Regions from separate parts of the Homo sapiens genome. Here all the other regions are reported to be linked to region 1. The links are microRNA targets in miRTarBase. Many come from high-throughput screens and were not tested one by one. Region 1 holds a microRNA gene; each other region holds the end of a gene's coding sequence.

The links. Region 1 holds the annotated microRNA hsa-miR-6745 (UGGGUGGAAGAAGGUCUGGUU, at 1,842-1,862, opposite strand). A microRNA usually pairs through its seed, bases 2 to 8, with sites in the 3' UTR of a target mRNA and lowers its output. Matches are read on the target gene's strand: a 7mer-m8 pairs with bases 2 to 8, a 7mer-A1 pairs with bases 2 to 7 and ends in A, and an 8mer does both.
Region 2: miRTarBase lists BCL2L1 as a target of hsa-miR-6745. Seed matches in the 3' UTR shown: 7mer-A1 at 2,087-2,093 and 7mer-m8 at 1,603-1,609.
Region 3: miRTarBase lists SLC35H1 as a target of hsa-miR-6745. Seed matches in the 3' UTR shown: 7mer-A1 at 2,669-2,675, 7mer-A1 at 2,678-2,684 and 7mer-A1 at 2,738-2,744.

The regions. Positions count from the first base shown.
Region 1 is chr11:47,177,774-47,181,018 of GRCh38, forward strand. MIR6745 (microRNA 6745) reads right to left here and starts at 1,964; the gene lies at 1,838-1,964. It overlaps PACSIN3 (protein kinase C and casein kinase substrate in neurons 3), which reads right to left. Exons shown (of 11, transcript NM_016223.5): 5 at 2,682-2,917; 6 at 2,413-2,568; 7 at 1,638-1,813; 8 at 1,386-1,506; 9 at 1,121-1,257; 10 at 593-714; 11 at 1-273. The coding sequence ends at 158. RefSeq lists enhancers at 1-206, 54-103, 184-233.
Region 2 is chr20:31,663,212-31,666,456 of GRCh38, forward strand. BCL2L1 (BCL2 like 1) reads right to left here. Exons shown (of 3, transcript NM_138578.3): 3 at 1,247-2,875. The coding sequence ends at 2,738. Among named protein-coding and RNA genes, the nearest start is that of BCL2L1-AS1, 10 kb to the right of the region's middle. RefSeq lists enhancers at 540-1,370, 615-909.
Region 3 is chr20:46,347,601-46,350,845 of GRCh38, reverse strand. It overlaps SLC35H1 (solute carrier family 35 member H1), which reads left to right. Exons shown (of 10, transcript NM_015945.12): 9 at 1-85; 10 at 322-3,245. The coding sequence ends at 452. Among named protein-coding and RNA genes, the nearest start is that of SLC35H1, 15 kb to the left of the region's middle.

The sequences.
Region 1 (3,245 bases):
AAGGCCCCTCCCCTCCCTGGGTCCCAGGACTTCCTCCCTCAAGGGACAGAGGAGCAGCCAGAGAGCGACGGTTCAGGGCCCTGAGGGTCCGGCTCTCCAGGAGAAGCTGGGCTCTGAACCAGGGTGGGTAAACGTTGCAGAAGGGCTGTCAGGACACTCAGGCGCCCACACACTCCACGTAGTTGGCAGGGTACAGGCCAATGCGGCCACTCTGCAACTGGCCTTGGCACCAGCCCTGCTCGTCCTCCTCACTCATCTTCAGCAGCTCCTCCCCTGGGGGAAAGGGGATTGGTCACTGCCAGTGGCCCTGGCCCAGGCCCTGTTCCTGCAACTGGGTCAAGGACTGAGGGGGATGGTGTGGTCCCAGAGCCCAGCTAGCAAAGACATGGCTCAGGCAGAGGCAGGTCAAGGTCAGCAAGCTGCCCCACCCCAGACCCTGAATGCAGCCACCAGGCACCAGCTATCTGGACCTGGAACAGCTGAAGGGACAGAGGACTGGCCCTTAAGAAGTGGGTATTTGGCTTCCCTTTCTGACACCCCTGCTCAGGCAGATAAGGCAGAGGCTGAAGCTAGGAAAGGGGTCCCAGGGTACCTGCTCGGAAGCTCAGCTCATCAGCTTCCTGGCCAGCGTAGTCATAGAGTGCCCTCACCCGAACCCCGGTGGCAGCCTTCCGGGGACTCTCTTCATCTGACCACTCCTCATCCTGCCCCGTGCTGGAGAGGGGAGGCAAAGGGAGCAGCTCAGAGTGCAAGGAACACGGGGCTGGAGATCTCACCCAGGATCAGGGCAAAGGCCTCCCTACCCCCAGAGGCACCTGGGAGAGTCAGGTGAGGTACTAAAGATTCTAGCTCTACCTCGCCATGCCCGACTGTGAGCAAAGAGGCAATTCCTGCCACACGCAGCTGATTTAAGGCATAAACGAGAGGGAATGTGGGAAATGCCCAGCAAATCTAAACCACTATGAGAACCAGTATCATTACAACTACTAAGTAGGCCCTCAGGTCCCTGGCACCAATTTTCAACCCATTTCAGGTGTGAAAGAAATGAAACCAAGGAGAAAGGAAAGGAGGGCGGGAGGCAGAGCTGTTTCTTTGCCACAGCCGCGCTCCTGGCTCTCACCCTGGGGACCCCGGGGACTGGGGTGGGGGTGCGGTGCCATCTCTTGTAGGCACAATGCTGGTCAGGGTAACCTCATCAGGGCTCCGGCCACCCTTCTCTTTCCGGCTGATTGTCCTCTGTGTGTCCAAGGACCACTCCTGTGGGGACAGTGCTTATAGTCAGGTGGGGCCATCTGAACCACCTTCACTTACTTCATCCCTAGCCCTGGCCGAGCTGAGTGGGAGCCCATCCCACCTCCCATCCCCACCCCGCCTGGAACACATGCCTCGAACTGTGGCCAGTTCATGGCCATGCCTGGCCCGTGGGTGCTGCGCCACCAGCGCAGATCCTCTTCGTCACTGGCTGCCTCAATGCCCTGGTGCAAGTCACGGTGGAGTTCATGGAACCTATGACCCAAGGCACACCCCTCAGTCTAGGAAGTCTAGACCCTGCATCCCTCAGTCCCAGCCAGGGCCTCGGGGAGATGGAGGAGACCCAGTACTACCCCAGATCTCCATGCCCACCAGGCAGTTCATACTTCTCACTGCTGGAAAGGTCCAGGTGCTGGTGTAAGGTGAGCAGCATATCCTTGAAGAAAAGAAGCCGCTGGCGCTCGGCGGCCTGGCAGGTCTCAAAGGCCTGTTCCATGTCCTCCATGTAGCGTGGAGTGTAGCGATGCAGCTCTGCCAGCGTCTGCTCATACTGAGCTTTTGTCTGGGTGGGAGAGGAGGGGCCTGGTGAGAACCAGACCTTCTTCCACCCAGGACTCCACCAGTGTTTACCAGACACTGCCATAGGCTGCTAGACCCAGGGCTAGCCACTAGGGGCAATCAGTCCCAAGACCCAGCTCCTGCCCTCAAGGACCCCAGCAGCCTAACAAGGGAGGTGACATCAGGCACAGCATATAAAAGAGTCTGGTGAGGATTGAAATGAGGTCAACCTACAGGAAAGGATGGGAGAAATCAGAAAAGGCTTCCTGGAGGAGGTGGAAACTGCAGCATCTCAGGATGGGGAGGATTTGCATATCCAGAGCTGCAGGAAAGGACACTTCGGGCAAAGGGTACTGTGCAAGGAAAAGAGCTGGAAGTTCTCAACTGCTGAAGTCATCCCAGTGCCTGAAACTCCATTTCTTTCCCTAGTAAAGCATCACCTTTTGTCAGGTTCCTCCTTTAAATGATCATCTGGAGAGAGGGTGGCAGGTGAGGAATAGGGTAATAAGGGTGCTGGGGACTGGACAAGATGTTCAGGGAGCAAGATTCATTCAGGAAGCCGTGCCCTGGGCGGGGGCCAGGGCTGGGACCTGTGGCCTGTACCTTCTCGGCCTCCTTGGCACAGCGTTCCACCCGTTCCTGCAGTTTGCGCAGCTGCTCCTGGGAGACGGCGCTGTCTGCCTTTGCGTGGCTCTCCCTCGTCTGGGCGGTCTTCTCATCCTTCCGGGCTGCGTGGTAGCTTTTCTTGGAAGCCTCAACCTGGCATGCATGGAGACCACTCTGGACCCTGGATGCCACACCTTGGCCCCCTCGATCCCTTGCAAACAAACAGGAAGGAGCCTGTCTCGGATACCTCCCCCACCCAGCCTCACCTCCTTCAGCCTCTTCAGCCAGGGCTTCTGGGCCTTGCGGAAGCCGTCCTCGGCCGCCCGGCTCTCGCGGAAGCCGCCCAGCACAGGCCGGTGGAAAGCCCCCCGCTGCCAGGCGCGCACCCGCTCACTGTCCTGCCCTTGCAGCTTCTCCCGCACCTCCAGGTGCAGCGCGCTCAGCCGCTCAGCCGCCGTGAAAAAGGCATGCCAGGCCTTCTCCAGTGTGCCATACTGGGGGCCTGCAGGGAGGGACAGGGCTTAGGCCAGGCCTGGGTACCACCCAAAATGAGCCTAGCCCCTCTCACTGGGTGTGAGGCATGGAGGCATGGGGTACGCGCATGGGGTGCAAAGGTGAATGACAACCCTGTCAGCTGGGCTTATTGAATGAGGACCATGTGCCTTATCTCACTGACTCCTTGTCTCAGCCACCATCGTGAGGACAGCGACATTGCCAACATTGAACAGGCAAAACACTGAGGACCAGAGATGTGAACTCGCCCAAAGCATTATGGCTACAACAGGAGCTGAGGGCCGGGCACAGTGGCTCACTCCTGTAATCCCAGCACT
Region 2 (3,245 bases), not on the chromosome of region 1:
TTTGAGACGGAGTCTTGCTCTGTCGCCCAGGCTGGAGTGCAGTGGCGCGATTTCGGCTCACTGCAAGCTCCGCCTCCCGGGTTCACGCCATTCTCCTGCCTCAGCCTCCCGAGTAGCTGGGACTACAGGCGCCCACCACCACGCCCGGCTAATTTTTTTTTGTATTTTTAGTAGAGACGGGGTTTCACTGTGTTTGCCAGGATGGTCTTGATCTCCTGACCTCGTGATCCGCTAAAACACAGAAATATTACTGTAACCTTCCTCTGCTCTACTGTGTAGAAGCTGGCCACAAATTCTCGGCTGGGCATGGGGATCACTGGAGGCTAGGTGTTCGAGACCAGCCTGGGCAACATAACAAGATCCCCATCTCTACAAAAAAAAATTTGAAAATTAGCCAGGCTTGGTGGCACTCACATGTAATTTCAGCTGCTCAAGAGACTGAGGCAGGAGGATCACTTGAGCCCAGGAATTTGAAGCTGCAGTTATCTATCACACTACTGCATTCCAGCCTGGGTGACGGGGCAAGACCCTCTTAAAAAACAAATAAATACTCTGACCTATGTCTTGTCTCCTGTACAGGAGAGGAAGGAATGCTACACAGAGGCCAAGAAGAATCTGGACTGGCCTTGCTGGGTTGGCTAATTTAAAAATTTTTTTGTAGAGACAGGGTCTCACTTTGTTGCCCAGGCTGATCTTGAACTCCTGACCTTAAGCAACCCATCCCCCACCCGCAAAGTATTGAGATTACAGGGTGTGAACTGCCACTTTGTTTTTCTTTTGTTATAGGAATGTCAGTCACAGAACCTTCTGATGGGTGAGGAAAGGCATCACACCTTTCCCCCACACCCTACAGCAGCTAGAGCCGTGCTTATGTCTGTCTCTTCCACTAGAATGAATGCTTGTAAAGGCAAAGGTTTTGTTTGAAGAAGTCCCCAGTGCCCAGGACTATGTCTGTGTAGAGCAGAGCTCAGTAAACACTTGCCAAGTGGCTGTGTCTCCCACTAGAATGTCAGCTCCTGAGGGCAGAGACTGTGTCTGTCCTGTTCACATGCAGCCCCAGTGCCCAGCACACAGCATGTACCCAGTAAAACCCTGTCACCGTACAGGTGGATAAATTCAGGCCCAGAAGGAAGGAAGGACTTGTCCAAGGCCCTCCCCTGAGGGCAGCAGAGCCAGGACCAGTACCCAGCTCTCCAGCGGCCCCTCCTTTCCCCATCCCGGAGCACACAAGAGCCCAGGCTCTTTGTTCACTGAGTAAACACAGTTTATTACTGAACTGCACTTTCACCTTCACACAGACTATTTCAAAGAGCTGGAACAAGTGTGGGGTGGGGGTTGGGGGAGGGGCAGATGCCCCTCAGGAGCCAGGACCCTCGGCCAGCTTCCCTGGACCAGGGCAGGGGAGGGAGCATCAGGCCGTCCAATCTCCGGGCACCAGCTCTCCACGTGCACGCGCACTGCAAGCCAGCAGCTCCTCACACATAAATACAGACACGCTTAACAAAAATAGTATATCATCTTCACAAGGAATAAAAACTAGTCTCAAATATGTACAGCAGAGAGCCCGGGGTGGCTGGGACCCCTGGGGATGAGACAGGCCAAGGGTGGAGCAGAAGAGAGAGGGAGGCCTGAAGAGCTCCTGGCCAGGCCACTCTGGCCTTGGCAGCCTGGCTGCCCAGGCTGGACAGGCATGGGGCACAGATCTGCCTGGCCAGGCAGGACTGGCCCTTCTAGTCAGCCCTACCCCACCCCATGCAGCAGGCTCTCCTTCCTGCCCTTCCTGCCTGAGGTAGGGAAGACCCTGGGGCTCCCATAGCTGTTCCTGATAGCTCCCTTTCACCTCAGGGCTGAGTCCCCTGAACCCACCATGAGGAGCAGCCCAAGGCAAAGATGCCACAGGCTGCTCTTGTAGGAAGTGAGGCAGCTGAGGCCATAAACAGCTCTGGGGCATCTGTCTTGGGCCCAGTTGGTCCCTCAGTATGGTCATGGGAGCCAGGGAGGGGAAGGGACTAGGGTGGTGCTGAACTGCAAGGGCCACCCTAGCTTTGGCATGGGGTGCTTCCTGTAGCTATAGCCCCCTCCCTCCTGGGTGGGGCTGGCCTCTAGCCAGAGGCTTCTGGAGGACATTTGGACTGGGAGTGAGGACTCTAGCCAGTCCAGAGGTGAGGAGGGAGTCCTGGTCCTTGCATCTTTATCCCAAGCAGCCTGAATCCCTAGTCAAAAGTGGCCCCTAAATGGCTCTTAGGGGGTAGGGATGGAAGGAAAGGGAACCCAGGTTAGTGTGGGGAGAGTGGGGGGAAAATGATCAATTCTGAGGCCACAAACATCAAAACAAAGGCAATCTAGTCTCCTTTCTGGGGAAGAGGTTCTGAAAACTTTCAAGCTCCCTGGCAGAAAAACATTTTCAGGGAGGCTAAGGGGTAAGGGTTGCACCAATCAGGTAGGGCCCTCCTGCCCCCAGCCACAAACCCTTCCATACCTGCCAGCCTCCTTTGGACAGATTTTGTGGAAATTTTGTGAATTCTGAGGCCAAGGGAACTGAGGTGTGGGGGTCTCACAGAAGTGTGATAAATTCTAGAAAACTAGCTGCAAGGGACCAGATCTGGGCCCAACCCTGTGATGGGCAGGTGGGCATGGGCTGCATGTAGTGGTTCTCCTGGTGGCAATGGCGGCTGGACGGAGGATGTGGTGGAGCAGAGAAGGGGGTGGGAGGGTAGAGTGGATGGTCAGTGTCTGGTCATTTCCGACTGAAGAGTGAGCCCAGCAGAACCACGCCGGCCACAGTCATGCCCGTCAGGAACCAGCGGTTGAAGCGTTCCTGGCCCTTTCGGCTCTCGGCTGCTGCATTGTTCCCATAGAGTTCCACAAAAGTATCCTGCAGGGAGAGAGAAGGAAGGTGCAGTTTTAGTCCTCAGAGAGTGATGTAGGTGGGTGGGGAAAGGGGCCATCTGCATGCTATGGCCTTGGTGATGTGAAAAACTGTAGCCATCTGTGCCCACTCTGGGCCAGGTAAAGGGCTAAGGGTGGTCCTCTTTCTTGACCCTCCATTGGTGATAATCAAACCATGTTACTGCTGAGAAACAGGTAGAGAGGAGGAAAGTGCCCTGTCTGAGGTAAGTCAAGAAGTAGCACTTACTCCAGAATCCAAGGTGGGAACGAGATGGGCAGGGTCAGGGAACTGATGGAAGCCAGGTGGCTGGAGCAGAGTGCAGGAGAGGAGGGCATGGGGGAGATGATGGTGCAGG
Region 3 (3,245 bases), not on the chromosome of region 1:
ATCAGCCTCCTGAACTGGCTGGGCTTCGCCCTCTGCCTCTCGGGAATATCCCTCCACGTTGCCCTCAAAGCCCTGCATTCCAGAGGTAACCCAGAGTCCCTTCCAGAAGCCTCTGTTTTCTGTTCTTCTCCCTGTGACTCTTAGTGATTCTGATGCAGGAAGTGTGCCCGGTGGCTCTGCTGCCGTCACTCCTCTAGGAAGATGTGGGGGTCATCTCCAGAGTGGGTGGGTGGGGCCTGGGTGACTCAGCACACATGCAAATCAGAGCAAACCAAGAAAACCACGACTGGGCCTGTAACTGTGGTCTCTCTCTATCCCAAGGTGATGGTGGCCCCAAGGCCTTGAAGGGGCTGGGCTCCAGCCCCGACCTGGAGCTGCTGCTCCGGAGCAGCCAGCGGGAGGAAGGTGACAATGAGGAGGAGGAGTACTTTGTGGCCCAGGGGCAGCAGTGACCAGCCAGGGCAAATGGCTTAGAAGCAGGCCACTCCCCAGCCTGCTGCCAGCACTCACTGTGCTCAAGCCGCCAGGGCTCATCATGGTAGCTGGGAGCTGTGGACGGGAGTCACCAGGTGGTGGGGCCAAGCCAGGGACTCATGACTTTTGCCCCTCCCTTCAGAGCCTGGTCACACAAGGGGCGAGCACCAGGCCAGCCTGGGACTGGCCAGAGCTGGGCCCAAGCTGCGCTGGAATCGCAGCAGGAGAGGGGAGTGGGCTGGTTCTTCCCACCACTTCCCAGGCTCTGACAGCCGAGACTCATTTCCAAGGCACAGCAGCTTTCTAAAGGGACTGAGTTTGGACTGGGTTTTGGACCTCCAGGGGCTGGAGCTTCATCACCTGGGCAGTGTCTTTTCTCAGAGAGCAGGTTTCTTTATAGTTTGGAAATAAATGGTTCACGGTCCACTGGCCGCCTTGTGTTGCTGGAGACGTGGGGGCAGGGAGGGGACAGTGTGGGCCTGGCCTCTCCTTTCCTTTCCCTGCCTGGAGCCTTCTTCAAATGTCTGGTCTTAAGCCAGGCCTCCTTCATTTTCTCGCTCCTGTTAGAACACCAGTCCCCTCCCCAGTGGGGCCCCACTGCACCTGCTGGCAGGAAATAAATGAATGTTTACTGAGTACTGCATTCTGGAGACCTTACATGTTTTCACAGCCTAGTTTGAATACTGGCTTTGTCACTAGCTGTGTGACCCTAAGCAAATGACCTAACCTGTCTGTGCCGTAGTTTTTTAATCTGTGAAATGGGGATAATGTCTATCTCAGAGTCCTTTTGAAGATTGAGTCATTATTAGTAACAGATTAAATGTTATATAAGCATTTCTTTTAATCCTTTTAACAACTAAGAGACTAAAGCCTGGAAAAGATAAAGAGCTGCTTAAGTGGCCGGGCTGAGGTTCACATCCAAGTCTGTGTACGTCTGTGTGTGCACGTGCTGCACGTGACATCCACACAGCCTCCTGGAACTTCATGGGCCCCTGGGGCTTGGGCTTTCCACTCCTCCTTGGCCAAGTCCCACGTCTTCTCTAGACTGCAGGCCTCTCTCAAATGAGGAAGGGAGGGGGCAAGACCCCAGCTCTGATGTGCTGTGGACTGAGTCTACTCCTGTAAACTGGTTCCCGGGCCATGGGAGACCCCCCCGGCCCTTGGGGACAAAGCTTTCCAGGCGAAGTGCTCCTAGGCACTCACAGCAGGTGGCGCCATTGCACCACACTGGCTCCCAGAGCCCAGCTGCCCTGCCACGGCTATCCAGACACCGGCAGAAAAGGGGTGCTTGGAAGAGGACAGTGGGTATCCATGGGTGGGGACAAGGATAGGGCTTGTTCTAAAATTGTTTCCATCAGGTTGGAGTCACTAAAGCTCGTTCGGTTAAGCCCAGGAGAACTTTAATACTTTAAAAATGGGTCTGCAAACTTCCTGTAAAGGGCCAGATAGTAAATATTTGGGGTTTGGGGACCATATGGCGTCTGTTGCAGCTACTCTGCCATCGTAGCACAAAAGCAGCCATAGATGACACAGACCCAGGGTGTGGCTGTCCCAGTGAAACCCCATTTACAAAAGTAGGATCCAGCTTGCTGGCTGAAGTTTACCAGCAGGAGAACCCTCAAGAATTCTCGAGTCCAACTTCCACTTCTGCAGCAGGAGACTGAAGCCAGGAGGGGGCGGTGACTAGCCCGAGGCCCTCAGAGCCTCCGTGCTCAGGAGTCAGACCGAGATCTGCCTCTAATTCAGATTCCCAGCACAGACTCAGCAGGCGGAGGTGGAGCACCAAGGGCGCTTGGAAGCGGCCTCTTATCTGGCTCCTGCACCTCTGCCCCCCTTGGATTCCGCAAGCTCAGAGGCCAAGATTAAAGGAGGCTCGTGCTCCAGCTGGATGATGTGGGAAGAGCCAGCCAAGGAGGGGGGCCAGGGCCTCCTCCGTCTTAGAGGCTGCTTGGGATGCAGGCTGCTTGGGCGGCAGGGGGAGTCTGCCAGAGCCCCGCTGGCTCAGGTGGATGAGAGCTTCCTGTCTGCTCCCCCACTGCCCGCCTCCCAGCACAGGGAGCAAGCGTTGCTGTCTGGTGCAGTAATTACAAGGTGCAGAGCGGGGGCCCTTACCTCGCACATGTTGGGTTCAATGACAGCCCTTCATTTAGCAGCAATTACCAGCTGAACCTAAAGGAGGGCTCCCTCTCCTCCCCCACCCAGCCCACCCAATCGCCTGGCCTCCCAGGCCAGACAGCGTCCACCTCGGCATTGAGCCCTAGAACCACCCATGCTGTCTGCAGCCATTGCATCTCAGGGCTGCAGCATCACCATGGCAACGCGGTGCTTGCACAGGTTGAGGGGAAGCTGAGGATGTGACTTGTCTCTCCAAGGCTGTGGTGTCTGTCCCCACACAGCCCCAGCTCCGAGGCTTCTGCAGAAGGGGCGGAGAGAGGACTGACCTGCAGGTTCGAGTTTCAAGTGCTTACCTGCCCACCACCTCTCCCAGGGGCCCACAGTGGAAGGAAGGTTAATGGCTCCAATATGTGAGGACGTCCACAGTTGGTGTTGTGGTGGCGGTGAGAATGGGCTGCAGTTTGCCTGTGGGAGGGACCTGAGCCATCAGGCAGGGCCCGGCATACCTTCATCTTCACTCCGGTACCCTTTTCTGCCTTGAGGGCTCAAGGGATTGTCTCCATCTGTTTCTGCTTTATCCTGCTGTGAAAAACCTGAAAATCCCAGTGGCTTGAGAGTAGTTACATGGCACCAAGAGAATTCTCCTCATGGTACTT